3 separate regions of the Homo sapiens genome follow, and regions 1 and 2 are each linked to region 3. The links come from fine-mapping of genetic effects on gene expression. A gene starts in region 3. Each other region holds a variant in brackets. All regions are shown on one strand. Distances are between the middles of the regions.

The links. PIP is the estimated chance that this variant, and not a neighbour inherited with it, causes the effect.
Region 1: its variant is fine-mapped to the expression of SLC9A9 in whole blood (TOPMed, PIP above 0.99).
Region 2: its variant is fine-mapped to the expression of SLC9A9 in whole blood (INTERVAL, PIP 0.96).

What each region holds. Positions count from the first base shown.
Region 1 is chr3:143,822,244-143,828,830 of GRCh38, reverse strand. The region is part of intron 2 of SLC9A9 (solute carrier family 9 member A9); the gene reads left to right. Among named protein-coding and RNA genes, the nearest start is that of SLC9A9, 23 kb to the left of the region's middle. The variant C/G (reference allele first, on the strand shown) is at 3,098.
Region 2 is chr3:143,633,468-143,640,054 of GRCh38, reverse strand. The region is part of intron 6 of SLC9A9 (solute carrier family 9 member A9); the gene reads left to right. LOC102724120 (a long non-coding RNA gene) reads right to left here and starts at 6,054. Exons shown (of 3, transcript XR_001740940.2): 1 at 5,953-6,054. The variant C/T (reference allele first, on the strand shown) is at 3,996.
Region 3 is chr3:143,845,283-143,851,058 of GRCh38, reverse strand. It overlaps SLC9A9 (solute carrier family 9 member A9), which reads left to right and starts at 2,591. Exons shown (of 16, transcript NM_173653.4): 1 at 2,591-2,911. The coding sequence starts at 2,737.

The DNA.
Region 1 (6,587 bases), 23 kb after region 3:
TACTTCACATCCACTGCTGCAGATCTACCAGCCCCTTATTTTGTTCACTCAACACAACAAGAACTTTTTTCTTCAGGACCTCTGTACCTGTCATTCCTTTCACCTAAAATGGCCTCACGTCTACCCTTTGAATATCAGCCTCCTTCACATTACTAGAGTTTTGGCTTGAAGTACCATCTTTTCAGAGAGGGCTTACCCATTTTCTCACACTGTATCCTCCCTCCCTTCTCTTCTCTCTCTCTCTCTCTGTGTGTGTGTGTGTGTGTTGGGGTAGGTATGTGCTTGTTTCTTTCTCTCTTATTTCATAGTACTTGACATCATCTGAAATTATACATGTATTTGCTTGCTTTTTGTTTATTAGCATTCTTACATTGCTTATTGTCCATTAGACTGTAAACTTCACAAAGGCAGGGACCATACCTTTTTTACTGACCAATGTATCCCCAAAGCCTATCCTGGTGCCCCATGCCTAATAGCTGCTAAACAATGAATGAATGAATAAATAATTGATGAGTCTGAGATCTTGGCAGAGCACATATGGCTAGAGAAACATACAGTATTTAGAAATTATCATTCTTGGAGTTGGTAGAATTGTAGTGTCCTGGATGCTTAATGTTTGTAGACACCTGAGACATTCTTTAATCTTAGCTGTGCATATATGGATAATACATTAATGTCCAGAGAAAATACATGGTGAGTTCAGGGTCCCACTACTGGTTAGAGAAGAGATAGAACTTGGACTATAGCACTTAATTCTGAGACCTGAGTAAATTATTATACCCCACACTACTGGACAGGCTCTCTGAGAGGCCACATGGACAGAGAAGGGCAGGGCACCTGGGGCTAAGACCTAGAGCGTTTCACAGTTAGACAGGCAGAAGGAGATGACCAGTGCTAGAAAGAGTGCAGGGAGGTCAGAGTTGAGGAAGAAGTCCGGCTCAGCAGAGTCACAGAAGCCATTAGTGTGGCCCCACTGGGTCCTTTTCCTTTGTGATATATTTTAAAGGGAGTATTTTGCCTTTGTTTCTAAAAGTTACATGATTTGAAAATGGGTTTTACTCTTAGAAAAATATAGTTTAGTGTCTTGGATGAAATTTCTGACTTCAGGATTTGGAGAGGCTGGAATGAATTCTTGTGCTATGTAATGGCCTCTTAGAAGATTTTATAAGAGCACGTGTATTTCTGGGATGGTTAGGCATTGACGTGCTTAGAGACAGAACTGGTTTGATGGCTCTGTGAGTTCCTTCCAATAAGAAGGTATAAAACTGGAAAATATGAGAGCTGTTGGCATTTATATAAACAGCAATGTACTGTGATTTTATGCCATGTTTAAACATATAAAAATTTCAGGAAACACCATATGCCAAACTTGTTTTGTTCATGCTCAACACAGATAAAAGTGTAGAAAAGAAAAAAAATATTTTCACTTAAAGATTGGTGAAAACAGTATTCTTCTATATGTTATGAGCAGACGATGAACTCAAAACAACCTTCTAAGAGGATAAAACAAGACCATGTTGCTCTGTATCTGTTCAGCCAATGTTTCCACCACCATTTGTCAAATTGTTCTGTGTATACAAGATACCTGCAACTGGTTGTAACCCTTTAGGGCCTACATCCTATTACATGATAGCTTTGCAAACATAAGTTTGTTATGTAATATTTAGGAATACCAAAATGTCTACCAAATATTTCTGCATTTTATGTCAATAGGAAGTTCAAAACCTGTTTTGAAGAGAAGATGATAAAATAACTTTCTGTTTCATACTTTCATTCATTTATTCTTTCAACACAAATGAACTGAGTCCTATCAATTTCAATTCTGAAACAAGATGTGGTCCCAAGGAGTTTAGTAGTAAATCAGAGAAAAACATAGCATATGAATAAATGAATGAGTAACACTAAAGGCACGTATCAAAAAAGTGGGACAAGAACCACAGGCGTCCAGAACAGGACAGTATGGTCTCTTATTAAGGGTAATAGGAAAGATTTCTAAGAAGGGCAGTTGATTGACTCTGATGATAGGGGTATGTGTGGTGTTGGGGGGACAGAGGGGAGGAATTCCATGCAGAAGGAAAAGCATGATATGGATGTGGGAAAAGGGGTAGACAATATTCCAGGAAAGAAAAAGCATTTCCAATTTGTTGAAGTGTGGAAGACCAGTGAAACCTAGAGCTGAAAATGAAGGCAGACCTTGATTTGGAAGCCCCTGAATGCCAGGCTGAGTAATGCCCTCTCTATTTGTAGTCAGAGGAACAGTGTAATGTTGACAAAAGCAAAAGGATAGTGTGCCTGCTGTGTACAGGGTAGAGAGTGAAAGCAAAGAGACAGATGAAGCCTAGACTTGGATGGTAACCAAGAGGTAGATGCAAGAAAAACGAGGAAGGAAGGCTGTGAAGGGCTTGGCCCAACTAGTCAGAAGAAGAGGAAAAACAGCTTCCTCTGCTACCCTGGTCATGTGGGTTCACAGAAGGGTGGTGAGGCAAAAATGTGGAAGTTAAAAGTTAGAAGAAGGAGTTGATTTGTAGGAGAAAATCACAAATCACAAATATGGTGGTTTTTTTTTTTTTTCAAGACAGAGTCTTGCTCTGTCGCCCAGGCTGCAGTACAGTGGTACGATTCCAGCTCACTGCAACCTCTGCCTCCTAGGTTCAAGCAATTCTCATGCCCTAGCCTCCCAAGTAGCTGGGACTACAGGTATGTGCCACCACGCCCAGCTACTTTTCGTATTCTTAGTAGAGATGGAGTTTCACCATGTTGTCCAGGCTGGTCTCAAACTCCTGACCTCCAGTGATCTGCCTGCCTCAGCCTCCCAAAATGCTGGGATTATAGGTGTGAGCCACAGTGCCTGGTCACAAATGTGGTTTTAAACTGATGAATGAATGAATCAATCTATTTCATCATTAATTTATTCATCATTGATTTAGCATGTTAGGTGTTTATAATACTCAGTTGGAAGGGTCAGTGGGCCATTTGGCTGGAAAAGTCTTGCAGATACAGTAGATTATCAAAAAGTTGTCAGTACAGTTAAATTTACACTTCCTATCACTCATAGATAAGTTGACTGTAATGCAAAAAGTCAAAGGAAACTACCCAG[C/G]GAAAATTTTGCCAAGTCTTCACTTCCTGTGTGACAAGTAGACACTATCGCTTGGTAAAGGAAGTTACTTTGAAGTGAGTTACACTGCTGAGCAATCTGTCCTTTCTATTCTTTCAATAAAGAGAATTGCCAAGCTGCAAATAGGTCATCAGAGCTCGTTTCAATTGTGTTGATAATACTACATATTTTAGAGCTACTTTAAGGAAGCCCTTATAGAAACAACTAACCATAAGACTTTTAAAAGTAATTTTGTTTTTGAAGAATTAAATAATTAATTTTTTGTAGCTTTAAATAAATAAATCAAAGTCCTTTTTTTTTTCTCACCATCCAACTTTTCCTAATGGTGATTTTGATTTTTCATCATTCAGAGTTTTAATTCTCATATATTTATTTGTAAACTACATTTGCATTTCTAGTCTTTTCCTTTACTTGAGCTTCAATAAGGCCAGGGGCAAACCTCTTCCTGTAACAGGAATCGCTTGAGCAGAGAGAGTCATTGGGCCATGAGATAAATATGTACAGTTAACACTAGGACACTCTTGGGGAGGATAAACAAAGGACTGAAAAGAAATTTTTTAAGAAACTTTTCTAGGCACACTGAGAGAAAGCAAGCTTCATGATGATAAATCAGCATTGGGGGTGTGGAGAAGCATTTGTAGGATACTATCAATTATTCTTCCTTTCAACAGAGAATAGGGCTCCATGATTTGTGTTTCTCTATCATGACAATTCTTGGCTCCTACCACGTGAGATGGTTCCAGAGAATGTCAAGTTTGGCAGTAAATGGGATGAGGCTGTTTGGGCGGATGCAGCTCCTTTCATCCTAAACCTTATTTAAGAGATCTGCTGTTACTAAAGAAACTAAAAATTTGTTTGCTTTAGCTGTTTTCTTCCACTTTCATTCAACATTTTTGGCAAAAAGTTGGCCTGTGAGATGACCTCAGAAATGTATTTAAAGACTCTAAATATTCCATTTGGTTTTGATTTCATCATTGAACAACACAGATTTTCTTCATTCCTTCAGTCATTCAAAAAATATTTATTTATTGAGCACTTGCCACTTGCCAGGCATTGGTTTTAGGTGCTGCAAGTATGGTAGTGAACAAAACGAAGTCCTTGTGCTCATGGGGTTTAACTTCCTGGAGGGGGATAGACAAAGGAAGTTCAGCACAAGCATTTGTAATCCAGAGCCAAGTGGAGGCAAGTGCTATGAAGAGAAGTTAGCAAAATTAGAAGGTTCGGAGTGAAGGGTCTTTAGATATGTCCTGCAGAGAAGGCCTCACTGAGGTGAATCGGAGCTGAGTCCTAATGAAGTGGGGACTATGCCATGCAGAAATCTGGAAGAAGGGAATTTCAAAGCAGAGGACAAAACTAAGTAACAGTAAGTGCCTGCTGCTTTCTGGAAGGCAGTTTTTTGTTTTTGGTTTTTTGGTTTTTTTTTCCTGCCAGCTCTTTGCCATTTTATTCATGAATATTCTAAGATCATTTTGTATATATAAAAAGTTTTAGAAAAAAATATTTTTTAAAGTAGAGAAGGGCAGAGAAGAAGAGAGAGATCATCTTGGAATAGGGATTGGAAATCTAGAAACACAGGGACACTCTGCTCCTAGGGGCAGGAAGTGCCATGAGGTACCATGGCCACTTTTGAAAGCTTGCCTTCAGAATGCACCACGCAAATACTAACTTCCAAACTTTTGATTATGCACCCACCAGTGAAATGCGTTTGAGAATATATCCATATACCTTTTTATTTACAAGTTGGATGTAAGGACTACTGTATCAATATACTCTATACATTATAAAGCAGATATCAAACTAGAATTTTTTAAAAGGATGAGATAAAATGAAATATAAACAGAAGTTCCAGTATGTCCTTTGCACACCAAAATCATCCTTTCCATTCTCTAAGATATGGACACCTCATCTTAGAGAACAATATAATATCTTATATTTTATTAAAATTTTATTTTTATTGTAACTATTAAATATTTTTGATAACATCTACCTTTAAAAATTCCACTCTTTTCTGAAATCTTTTTTAATGTTTAATTTTTAATTTATTTTTTAATTTTTTTATTTTTTATTTTTGTGGGTACATAGTAGGTATATATATTTATGGGTTACATAAAATGTTTTGATACAGGCATGCAATGTGAAATAATCACATAATGGAGAATGGGAAAGCCATCCCCTCAAGCATTTATCCTTTGTGTCTTTTCTGAAATCTTAAATTCTGTATTCTGAGTCTTGCGGCACCAGTATGTGCATGGGCTGTTGGCCTGACATGAGGATGTTCTTAGGGGCTGATTACCTCTGGGAGAACACTCATCTTCACCCCGAATGTCCCCATGCTACTCTACTACAGTATCCAGGTCTTTTGTCTCATAGGTCTGCAGTCTCATAGCTCCACCTGACATTCCCCCACTGCATTTTAGCTGAGTTGTAAGTTAATATTTACTTCTATAATGTTTTGATTCATGTCTGTCTTCTCAATGTCACTTGTCTACAGTCTCACTAGACTGTGGGCTCCAGGAGGGCAGAGACTAGGTCTGTTTAGTGGTCACATTCATTCCATGATTCCTGGCAAATGGTGAATTCTCTGTGGATCTTGATAAATGAATGGATGATGTAACCAGGTATCTATCATTCTCTGCTTGTCAGTAGCTCCTTTTTACTGCTACTCTGTCCTGTCTTAATTGCTGGCTATTTTGTAACCAAGCATCTAACCTCAGATTTCTCCTCAGGGTGAATTATGTGTGCTCTGTGATGGTTGTTTACTACTCAGAGGACTGAACTGCTAAAAAGTCTGCTCTCCAAATAATTGCGTAGGGATGGAAGGAGGCAGAGAGAGATTCAAGGCAGGGAGAGAGGGAGAGAAAAGGAGCCTGAGCAAAGAACAGAAAACAGAGAGAGAGTGGAAGGGAAAAAAGAGATTTCCCATTGTACTTTAAGTCTGAGTAAATAATATTTACAATGGATCTTTCAATTCTTTTCCCCATTGCTTTGTTCCTTCTAAAATATTAAACTGTGGCAAGAGTGCACATTTATCATTGCTGGTCTCCAGCGAGTAGTTATTTAAAGTTCCACCCAGCTGCATTTCCCTGTTCTCTCCTGAGGTCATTAGGAAGCTCCTGTTTAGTAACAGATACAGCCTGAGGTAGGCTCCACAGACAGCTGGGCACAGGAGGGGAGGGGACCTAACGAAGCTGCACATTCAGCTGGTTGTCTCTTGTTGCCTTTTAAGCTTGCCTGGAGTTATGGAGTCTCCCAGCTGCTCCCTTCACATCCATTTCTGATCACAGGACTAAGTGGGCTCTGATTTATCGAGTTCTGCCCCAGGTTGGGGTGTGTGGAGCAAGAATGTCCTGCAAATTCGAGTGGTCTTCATCTTTCTTTCTAACTGTCATATGATGGGTTCCCAGAAAAGTGGTGGACCCTCAGGTAGTGTGTAGTGAGCAGGAAGTTCATCAAGTGCCCTTGAGATTGACAC
Region 2 (6,587 bases), 210 kb after region 3:
GTGAGACTCCATCTCAAAAAAAAAAAAAAAAAAAAGAAAAAAAAAGAAAGGAATTACTGACCCAGGGACCAGAATATCCATGCTGGTATGGTCATTTCATTTTCTTTCTATTGTCAAGGTACTTAAGAAGATGAATTATAATCAGCATCCACTTTATTAATTCACCACAGAAAATTACTGTCATCGGGATTTCAAGCACCCCAAACACCATATGATAAAAGCAGCCTTTCCCATAGGCAGGCCTGCATATGAAAGCAAATAATATCAGAGGGTTGTATGGTAAACACAGGGACAGATGAAGGTTGTCAAATGTTTATCCTCATCCTTCACACAAAAGCTGTTGTTTATCCAATGGGTCTTTGAAATTTTGAAGTGCTTGGTAATGACCTCCTAAATCCATACCAACATTCAGGATAATTAAAAACTGCTCACTTTTAGTAAGATGATAAAATTTGGCCCTCTCAGTACTACACAAAGCTGGGAAGAAGACTAGCAGTGTTTGATTCTGTGATTCTTTTATGACTACCCAATCCTTTTTCTAATTGATACAGTATACTTTTGTCATGATGCATCAGTGTCATTTGTCTCTAATGTCCTTTAATATCTGGTCAGGGGTTGATAGTGATTCCCTCTCATTCCCTCTGTTGTAACCAGAGGCATGAATGCCCATGCTAGTGCCTACTAACAGATAGTAGTTGATAGCTAGGCATCAGGCTGTCTATGAGAAGAACCAATCTTGACTTCTGCCTCATGCAAGGAAAGATTTCCAAAGGTTGCCACACTCGCTTCTAATAACATAATCTAAAATACTGCATACTAAGCTTTTGGGTCAGAAGTCAAGAGTTAAAGGAAGCTATGGCTCTCACTTCAGGGGGTGGAGGGTAGGTGCAGCTAAACAAAAAGACAAAACTCTATAAATAGTTTTGGGGCTCTGAATTAAGAATTTTTCATCCAAAGACATATTTTCTTTCTAATACACTTAAACCTGACTTCTCATTCTGAACAACCAAGAAAATGTCTTTTATTTCAGGTGACCAAGTCTGGATTTTTTCTAAGAAAAAACTTTCCAGAGAACAAGGGGCCAAATCAATATGCAATAATAATTTTGGTCTAAATTAAAAGCTCTCTCTTGGCCTGGAGAATATAATCTGCTCATATTACTTGAGCTTTGTAATGAATTTACAAGACAGGCTTATTGCCAGTTTTATGTGGGCTCTGCCTTACTGGGGCATGGGATGCTTAGGGAATCTGATTAAAACCTTGGGAAAGAGCAGCTGTTCAGCAATAGAGGGTGAATTCAGGGCCCATTTTTCTGTGCCTGACTGCAGGGCCTGACACCCTTGCCAGCTATTGGAAGATAAATGAACTGTCTTTGAATGCCTAGCTCCCTTGTTAATAGCTTTAAAATATTGGTTGTTTATGGGAAAGAAGTCAGGAGCTCTTATCAATTTTCCTGCCCCAGGGGTCCTCAAATATATCACTTTTCCCGTTGCCAGAATGGCAGGCAGTATTGAAGGAAAAAGGAGGAAATTCTTTCACCATTTAGAAGTTCTTCATGGATTCACAGCAAGAGTTTCTCATTTCAAAAGTTAGAGTGAATGCCCACTAAATTATTAGATGAAATAACTCACATAGAATTTAGACTCCCCTCTTCCTGGCATTATCCTGCAATATCAGAATCATGATGTAGTTTCATCTGTTTTTTCTAAAGGCAATTAATTCAAATTGGATATATGAAAGTCAAATTCTAAAGTCTGTGCCAAATGGCTTATTTTCAGAATGGCAGTTAAATGGTCAAATTTGATCTAATGACATTAAGGTGAGCATGCTATATTTTGGGCCATTAAATTAAATTCTTACCCTAATGTGTTTTGAGGTTTATCCTTTTTCATTTTTACCCCCCATTCCCATTCTCACCCGCCTACTTTGCTTTTTATGGAACTCAGAAAAACTTCTTGGCAGAGTTAATTCTTACTTATGTAACAGTTGACTATTTAAATTTTCAGATATTGTTTATTGTTCTTATAGCTGTTCACTTTTAGCCTTTTCATTAGCATAACTTATAAGAAAAAGTTAGGAAAAGTAGAAAAATATATGCATGTATGCAGTTGGCTTTCTTTTCATTAGTAATTCTAATACAAGTTTTCATGGAAAAACTTTAATCTTAGAACATAACCTCAGATGTGGAAAGTATGTGTTTTACTTCTCCATGGAGAAGTAAAGGTTGGGTTGGCAGTCTGGATTCTGACTTTATTATTTACTAGTTTTATACCAATGAGCAAGTCAGTCAACCTCTTTAAGTTGGTTTTCTCATTTCATCAAGATGGCAACTTTAGTATACATATCTATTCTCACCTTTAAAAAATAAAAACCTGTTGAGATTTTAGATGTCAGTTACGCTAAAGCTATAGATTATAAAAGCAAATAAGATCAACTTTAAGGGGAAACAACATTATAGAAAACTAAAGCCCAAAGCATATATACTTACTAAGGTGTATATAAATGGCTATTATATCTACAAAACAGGGATAAGCTGAAATTTGAAATATAAATCATAGAAATTCAAAATAGGAAAATCCATATTTATCAAAGCCTTTGTTCAGTTTTTACATTCTTTTTGCTTTATTTTTGTCTGAATGGGTTAATTTAAAAGATATGTAGTCAAGCTTTGAAATTTTTCTGCTTTGTCTAATCTATTGTTAAAGCTTTCAACTGTATTTTGTAATTCCATCTGTAAATTTTTCATTTCCAGAGTTTTGTGCTTTCTTTAAATATCTATCTCTGTAGTAAATTTTTCATTCATATCTTGAATTGTTTTTCAGATTTCTTTGTATTGGTTTTCAACTTCCCCTTGGATCTCGTTGAACTCCCTTATGATCCATATTTTGAATTCTTTATCTGTCATTTTAGAATTTTCATTTTGGATAAGATCCATCACTAGAGAGCTAGTGTGATCCTTGAGGGGTGTTACAACACTGTTTTTTCATGGTGACAGAATTGGTTGGTTCCTTCTCATCTGGAGAAACTGTCACTTCTTATTTTTGAATTTACATTCATTTTAATGGGACTTTATTTTTCCCCTTGAAAGTGTGACTGTTGCATATGTTGGGTAGGGTCATTTGGCTTTGCTAATTTGTGATCTTGGGGTGGGGGCTAAGGCTCCGTATGAATTCCTTGGTTATAGATAGCCTTAGTGTAGTGGCTTGCTCAAATGCTGCTTGTTTGTAGGTTTTAGTAGTGGTGTACTCTGCATGTTGTCAGGCTCACTGTCTCCTGCAGAGATGGGGAAGTAGAAGTCTCAGGAGATTATCTCATTCCCCAGTGCTTTGCACTTCTGTTTATTCTCACTTATAAATGGGAGCTAAATAATGGGTACACGTGGACATAAAGAGTGGAGTAATAAACATTAGAGACTCCAAAAGGTGGAAGGGTGGAAGGTAATGAGGCTGAAAAATTACCTATTAGGTACAATGTTCACCATTTGGGTGATGGATACACTAAAAGCCCAGGCTTCACAGCTATGCAATATACACATGTAATAAATCTGCCCCTGTACCCCCTAAATCTATAAAAATATTAAAAAATTTAAAACTGGGAAAATCAAAATAAAATACTTAATAGATGAGCGGATATGATTGTCTACTTAGAAAATACAAGAGACTTAAATGGCAAAATATTAGAGAAATCGGAAATCTGGCTAGACAGATGATTGACAGACAAAAGTCAGTAGCTTTCCAGGACTTCAGCAACAATTAATGATAACATGTAATGGAAAACAGTTTTATTCATAATAGCATCTTAAAAATCTAACATAATTAGAATAACATTAAATAATAAATGTACAAGATATCTGAGAAGAAAAATTTTAACTTTAGTAAAGGACCAAAAAGACACCACAAACAATAAGGAGAGCTGCTATGAGACAGGATGACAAGATTCAAAAGCCAATTCTCCCACAAGTAAACTATATCTTCAATGTAAACTCACTTCTAAAA[C/T]CACAACATATATTTTTAAGCCTATTCTACAGATCATGTGGAGCTTCTGCTTAAGACAGCAGGATAAAATAGTTTTATTCTACTAGACTCCCTGAAAACAAACTAAAACTAAGAAAAACACTGAAAAATAGAAAAAAAATAGCCGTTGAAACAGGAAAGTATTCACAACTCCAAACTATAAACTATGAAATATTTAAGTATGAAGTATTGCCGCTGAATAATGTGAAATCTTAAACAAGAGATGGTAAGATGCTGAGCCAAGTCTGTTTCTCTCGGACCTGATAGCACATCATACTACTGAAAGGAGCATCCAATATTCTGCTGTTTAGAGCACAGTTAAGATCAGGTAGATGGGTCAGGGGAAAATGGGGAAAATAGTCTGACCCCTCAAAACAGCAGCCAAATAGAAATCATGCTGACACATTCTGGTTTCCTAGCCAAGGACTCTGCTGGAGGCTATTTGTATGGAAGAAAAGGAGAAGTTTTCAAATTAAAACATAATTCATCCGCAACTTCGGGGGTTTTTCTCTGTGCCACCTCAATTTGAATGCCATAAACTACAAAAAGATGTATTCCCAATAGCAAAGAAATAACAGATTTGGTGACAGATGCTTGAGACAGCCAGTGGCAGTTTTAAAACATAGCCCCCAAATTCATTGACACTCCTATCCAGAAATGGGTCTATGCCCCACCTTCAGTGTAAAGAATACAGAAGGGATGCTGTCCCAGTTTCCAGGTCCAGGCCTTTAGTAACTAGCAGCTTCCACCTCCTCTCGCTTAGAGAACTTACTCTTGGAACCCAGCCACCTTGCTGTGAGGAAGCCAAATCAGTCTGTGGAGAGTTCCACCTGGAGAGGGAGCGACAGCCAGCAAGACTTGCCAGACATGTGGGCGATCCATCTTTGAAGTGGATCCTGCAACCCCATTCAAGCTGCCCCAGCTGATACCACGTGGAGCAGAAATGAGCTGGACCTACTGCACCCTGCCCAATTTGCAGAAATGTGAACAAAATAACTGATTGTTATTTTAAGTCACTCAGTTGTGGGGTGGTTTGCTCTGCAACACTAGATAACCAGGACAAAACCCAAATTAAAACAGCAGTGAGCCTCAGCTTACTCTACCCTATTTCACCCCTTTCCCTGTACTATTATTTAATTATTTAAATAATAGTCAGGCTTTTAAAAAGATGAGTTATAATCAAAAAGGAGGGAGTAATATATATTCATTAAAACTGCAAAGTAATTTTTTATAAATAATGGAGGGAATTTAAGCCAAAGAAGAGCCCACAATCCCCAAACAAATACATCAAAGTATTTCAGAAAAATTGTAGACAAAGAGTTCTCCATTATTCTGAAGGACTTGCAGAAAATATGGATCTCTCTGTCTCTATATGTGTGTGTGTGTGAAGCAATAAACATCAAGCAAATGCTCCTAAGTATCAAGCAAACAAAAATGTTCAGAGCAAAGTTCAAAATTTTATAGAAGAGATATAAAATAATTAAGGGAGATTAAAAGTGTGCTGGCAATACTCAGGGAAAAAGTTGGAGAGATCAATAAAATCACTAAAGAGACAAAAGACACTAGAAGCCACAAAAATACAATGAACTTCACTGAAAATATTGTTAAATACATAGAAGACGCATTTGGGGAAATAACACAAAACAAAGTAGAAAAGAACAAAGATATAATGACTCCAGAGAATATGACAGAAATGAATGACAGATAGTTGGATGGTTTTGAAGAAGAAAACACTTGGAAAAATATCATAAGAACATGGTGTAAAACAATATTCTCCCGAAACAATGTAATAAATAGATAGACATAAAGGACCCACTAGATTTCAGGAAAGTTTCATTTGGAATCATCGACAGCATAAGATAATCTGAAAAAGTTACTGAATTTCAAGCTTAAAGAAAGGATTATGGGAGCACATAGGCAGAAAATTCAAGTCACTTACAAGAGCAGAAATAATCAGGTTGGCTTTCGACTTGACCACAGTGACATTCAATTTCAGAAGATGGAAAGGCAGCACATGTTCACTTCTGAGGGAAAGAATGTGAAACCCAAGCCAGATTGTTCCTCCAATATAAAGGCAACAGTTTGGGTGTTTTAATAGATAGTGTGGGGCAATGGGCTATTCCTTTGGGAGAAAAGTTAAATGCCTAATTCACGTCATTCCTAAAATGAAACTAGAAGGATTACAGAGCTCAATGTTAAGAAAAACTACAAAAACATTGGAAGCATATTTTAGAATTTTAGAATATTAATACTCTTCCTAAATAAAATTCAAATCCTAGAAACAATAAAGAAATAGATAGTATTTTATAGATCTTGTGTGTGTATAGCTATAGATATGTTCAATGTTTTCAAGAATCTTTTTGCCAGTATCAGCCAAAATTTAAATGTGCCCAGTGAAGGTACTTCTAGCAATCTACCTTACAAAATATTTGCTTACATCAACAAAGATATTTATACACTGTATCATTGTAATAACAAAAAAATGTAAATAGTCAAAATGTCTATAAGAAAGATTAAATATACTGTGCTACATACAAACAATGGCACACTTTGGAGCTTTAAAAAAATTTATGG
Region 3 (5,776 bases):
ATACACCCCACATGCAATTTAACTCCTACTGGCTGTGTGACCTTGGCTATGTTGCCAAATCTCCCTGAGCCTTAAATTACTCACCAGGAGAAGGGTGAGTATTTTCTGCACATTAAATTAGACTAAGTTAAATTCCTTGGCATATTTTCTGGTCCATAGTAGACTCTCTATTGTTACATGTTTCCATTTTATTTTCTCACTTACGTTGGTACAGCAAAATAAAAAATGATATTCTAAAAAGAAAACACAAAATAGGAAGAATTGAATTCCTTTTCTGGATGGAGGAATTGGAGATGTTTCCTGAGCCCCTTTTCTTCAAGCTTTTCCCCCCAATGTGAAGCAGCATCAGGAATGAACAATGGAATAGTGAATGTACTCCATTCCTGGAATAAAGCAGGGGTCATACATTCAAACATCTGCAGGGGCCACACGGGGACCATGAATGAAAGAAGAGGGATGAATGGACTTGTGGCAAGCTGGTTGCAAATGCAGCAGGCAACCACTCAGCCCCAACAGATTGTGGCCATGTAAGAAGGGCCCAGTGTGCCAGATCTTACAAGTTTTTCTTGCAAAAAGCCATATGATTTTTTAAATGTTAAATATACTGATTTGAATGTGTTGACATCAAACCTAAAACTTTTTAAAAAGACGTGTAAGCCAATCAAAACATTCTATGGGCCATTAATCTTTTGTCAAGTTGCTTCATTGGTTAAAAGAGTGAAACTGGATGTCACGGATCAACCAGAGAATGTTTATTCTACTCAGATGGAATAATTGTGATAAAAGAAAACCAAAGTAATTCAATAATGACAAAAAACAAAAGGACAGGAAGTTTCTGAATTTGTGTTATCTTGTATATCTGACAACTCGACTGAACCTGTGGAGTTGCAAAATCATAAAGGTAGAACCTGCTAGCAAAGCTCCATGAAATGCTTGCAAGCATTAGCTGATAGGTTTCAAAACAGTATGAATATTAGTCATCACAGATATTCCTGCCAAAAAGGGTAGCGTGTCAGAAGAACATCTGCAGCACACATAAATACCCTCTGCTAAGTTAAACTCAGAGAGGAAATAAGCTTCCAAAGTTGCACAAAGCAAAGATGCTGAAACAGCAGAGCTTTGTATTAAGGGGTTGATAGACTTGCTCTCATGGTGAAACTGTTTGTTGAGGAGGTAGTTAGCTCCCAATAATATTACATGCTTGACCTTTAGCTTTTAGTGACAAAAATTGTTTCAGGACGCATTTGGGCTCAGCCTACTCAATAAGAAATCACATTGTATAAATTGAGCATTAATTGTGTCAAAATGGGGATCATAAGTGATTAATACTCCCAAATTACAATGATATGGTAAAATGAAAAAAAAAATCAGCTAACCCCAGGATATACCCAAATGTGTTATAGGATCAAGTGTTAAAAGCAAGCAGGTCATAATATTTGCTAAGAAAAAAGAAAGAAAAGGAAAAAAAAGCTGCAGAACCCATGGTATTATCTTGAACTATTTTAAAGTAGAAAAATATGAAATCAGACAGGAGCAACCTGCCACATGGAAGATGATCTGAAGAATCATCACTCTTATGATCAGAATCCTGTGAATACAGAGCTTTCATTTCTGGTGGCAGAACCATTTCTCAGTGAGCAACATTGTTTTGCCATAGGACAGAGGAGGTTGTGATCTATTGCAGATTTCTGTGGGTCCTGGATGCCGAGACCAGGAACCCTACAAAGAGAAATCCATGCATGTGGCGTTGCTGAGGATGGCTGCGTGAGTTTCTCTTTCGAAGTAATGTGTTTTGTTTTTTTTCTTTTTTGTCTCAACGTATCCAAACAGTACAGTTGTAGAGATGGGGATGGAATTTTATTTGTCTTTTGCTTTCATTGTTTTCTCTTGTTAAAAGAAAAACAATTGATTTAGAGTTTAAAGGCTGCTCTGCAACTATCAATTATATAAAGCCAAATAGAGTCATATACTAAATCCTTTCTTGCTTCTCAACTAAAAAAAAAAAAAAAAAATCCTGTGAAATCACTTTAGGTTTGCTTAACCAATGTACAGTCATGATTTGAGAGCATAAGAAACCCTATAAGAAACCCTATGCCTTAAGTGAATCCCATTGTGAGATACTTGAGCTATGAGGCGGAAGTTTCAGGCTAAGCAGTGTAATATCTTTTCAGGAGGCTAATATGCTGATCCATTTAGAGCACAGAGGCTGATTGATAACTGTGCTATCAATCCCCATCACTTTGGCAGGTCTTGGTTAGAGAGGAAAGATCTTGCATTTAGGTGAAGTTGAGTCAGGAATTGGCTTTTTGAACTTAGAAAACGTTGCTAGTGTAAGGCTACCTTTTTTATTATTAATCTACAGTTCATATTTATGCAGCTTAAGAAGACTTATTTGGAATAATAAGACCGTGATTCAAGATCTTAGCATCATTGCTTGCAGATTTGTCCAGTATGAAAGATATTTTCATGAGATGAATCACTTAAAGACATTAAGAGTCAGTGATGAAACCACACACTCTCGAGTTTGAAAAGAGACAGGGCTGCTTTAAGAGAGAAACAGGAAGTTGTAACTAGAAGCCATCTGAATACTAAGCCAGGGCAGAATGCTTGTGAAGTAGCAACTAAAGTGGCAGTGTTTCTTCTGAAATTCTCAGGCAGTCAGACTGTCTTAGGCAAATCTTGATAAAATAGCCTTTATCCAGGTTTTTATCTAAGGAATCCCAAGAAGACTGGGGAATGGAGAGACAGTCAAGGGTTATGTCAGAAAAGGATGAGTATCAGTTTCAACATCAGGGAGCGGTGGAGCTGCTTGTCTTCAATTTTTTGCTCATCCTTACCATTTTGACAATCTGGTTATTTAAAAATCATCGATTCCGCTTCTTGCATGAAACTGGAGGAGCAATGGTGTATGGTGAGTGCATAAATTGTGAGATTGATGTGAAACTTGTTGCTTGAGCGTAATTAGAGACTTGTGCTCAGATAGCAAAGTACCGAAACTGGAGAAAATGTGCTGATTGAAATGTCATTAGTTTGATGAAAGGTGCTGCAGCGTAACGAATGCTAATCTCTTTACAGACAAGCCGCCGAAATTTGCCATGTCACGAGAGCAAATGTCACAGTCATGTTCTCACACGGCACATAATGCAAGTCTGTTGACAGATGCGGGTCCATTGTCATGTGGGGAGTCGAGGGCGAGCTGTTTGTTTTTGTAATGATGTTGGGAAGTGATGGCTCTGCAGTCACAAAGAGCAGCCTTCTCTCACTGGCTGCACCGATGAACATTACGAAGTTCTAGAAAAAACATCACTTCAAAATGCCTGGAGTAATTCCTCTTATATCAACTAATTTCAAGAAGAAAACTTGCAGAAACTAACCCCACCCCTCTTAAGAGAATATTGTGTCCAAGTCCTTTTTATTTATACGAACAGTGTCTTATTTTCTTATAATAAAAAGTTATAAATAAACGAGAGTTTCTTTATGCAGTACTTTTTACTTCTTAGCCTGATTTCAGATGTTCTAATTTATAATGATCATTGCTAGTGTTATTTGTTATGTATCTCCTATTTATGTATTGGAGGCCAAGGTGTGGAAAAATATTTAACACCTGCAGTATTGCTCTTTCTGGGCAACTTACCGTATCATTCCTTTCAGAAAGTTTAATAAAGTCTGACAGAGATTATCTGTCTGTACTCTCATCTTTTAAAGTAAAATGAAAGACACCAGTTTTTACTGGTGTTACTGATGAAATAGTTTACTTCACTGCTCTTATCTCAGCCTGATAATGGATAGGAAGTTTGAACACAATGGCAACAGGCAAGGCATTGCTATAATTTATAGCAAATAACATACTTTTATATTTGGGGTTTCCTCATTTTGGAAATCCTGAAACCCTTTCCTAAGCCTGAGATTCAGGGTACAGATCAATGCACATTGTATATGCTAATCCTGTGGTGTCCTGATATTAACAGTGTATAGTTGTGATTTCAGAACCTAAGGAATCCTAAGCCTTAAGTGGATCCCACTGTGAGATACTTGAGCTATAAGGCGGAAGTTTCAGGCTCAGGAGGCTGATATGCTGATCCATTCAGAGCACAGAGTTAAATTCCTTGGTACTGAGGGTCTTTTAAAAATTTTTTGCTTGGGAGTGGGGAGGGACAGCATTAGGAGATATACCTGATGTTAAATGACGAGTTAATGGGTGCAGCACACCAACATGGCACATGTATACATATGTAACTAACCTGCACGTTGTGCACATGTACCCTAAAACTTAAAGTATAATTAAAAAAAGAAAAAAAACATAACCCAAATGCAAAAAAAAAAAAAACCTTTTTTTGCTGTATTGTTTTATTTATTTTTTAAAATTTAGTGGAGACAGGGTCTCACTATGTTGCCCAGGCTGGTCTCCAACTCCTGGCCTAAAGAGATCCACTGACCTTGGCCTCCCAAAATGCTGGCATTACGGGCATGAGCCACCATTCCCAGCCAGTATTGAGGGTCTTAACGGGCACAAGAAAACTCTCATTTAAGAGAAAAAAAAAATCACAATCAGGTGGGAGAGAAATAGCCAAACAAAAAGGAGGGGATGCCATCAGATGTGAAGCCCTAGGTTCCTGTCATTTGCCTATCTCCATCATGAACAGAATTTTTCTCTTGACTTGACTAATAAGTAATCTGCAAGGATATGGAATAGAATCTGAGAAGCCAGAAACAATGTAATTCTTGATATCATATTAAAGGGACATATGTGCTTTAGCAAAACTACCCAGATTTAATAGATTGCCAACCTTTATTAGAGGGAAAGATTTCTTCACATCCCTGAATTTGATTGAACTATGACTCATTTACCAAGTTCAATGGTGGGGATATTGTTTTCGTAAAAGTTTTGATAACCTACTAAAATTCAGTCATGTTTTGCATTCACAATACATACAGTAACTCTTACTTTTGAATCTGAAAAATTCCAGGTTACCTTTAATCCTGCAAAACTCTCTGAAATATTTTTAAATTGTGCTTGAAATAATAAAATAGTAGTTCATTGACCACTGCTATTGAGGTAGCATTTCTCTAAATTGCTGTTCTTAAGGCAGATAAAGGCTTAAAGTTTATGAGTGGAATTAAGTTGGGTTCTCTGATTCCTATTCTTCTTTCATGAGTTTTTTAAAGTAAAAGTTATTGAAAGCAAATTCTGAACCAGTGCAATGTAAAAGGATTATAAAAATTATGGAGATATGCATATATATGTATTCTCTTACTAGAAATTTTGAGTATCTTTCAGTTATCTTGAACTATATAGATCAATGAAAAGACATATTTTAGTGATGTTTAACTTTTTCTTGGCATAGAATCATAATTGTTAGGATGTCAAAGAATTTTAGAGGTTATCTTCTCTATCCCCTTTATTTTAGAGAGGCAGAAGCTGAATCCCAGAGAAGTGAAGGGACTTTCCAAAACTGAATAGCCACTCATGACTGGTCCATGTGCTTTCACTCATCTGCATGTCTTACTAAGGTTCACGTTCACCTGAAAGAACTCTCCCTGTGTTTTCTGAAAGTACTCCATATGGGTGGCATTCATGACTTGTCACATTTCTTCTTCAGGGATGTCCTAAATGTTATATCTTAAATGCTTATTAGGAACTTTCTATCAGTAATGTAATAAAATAGTCTGAAACTACACCAGAGGAACATGATGGGATACTGTAGTAAACACTTTTTAATGATAGGGGAAAGGAGATGCCAAGTGAATTAATTGTCCAACAGCTATAAATGAACTT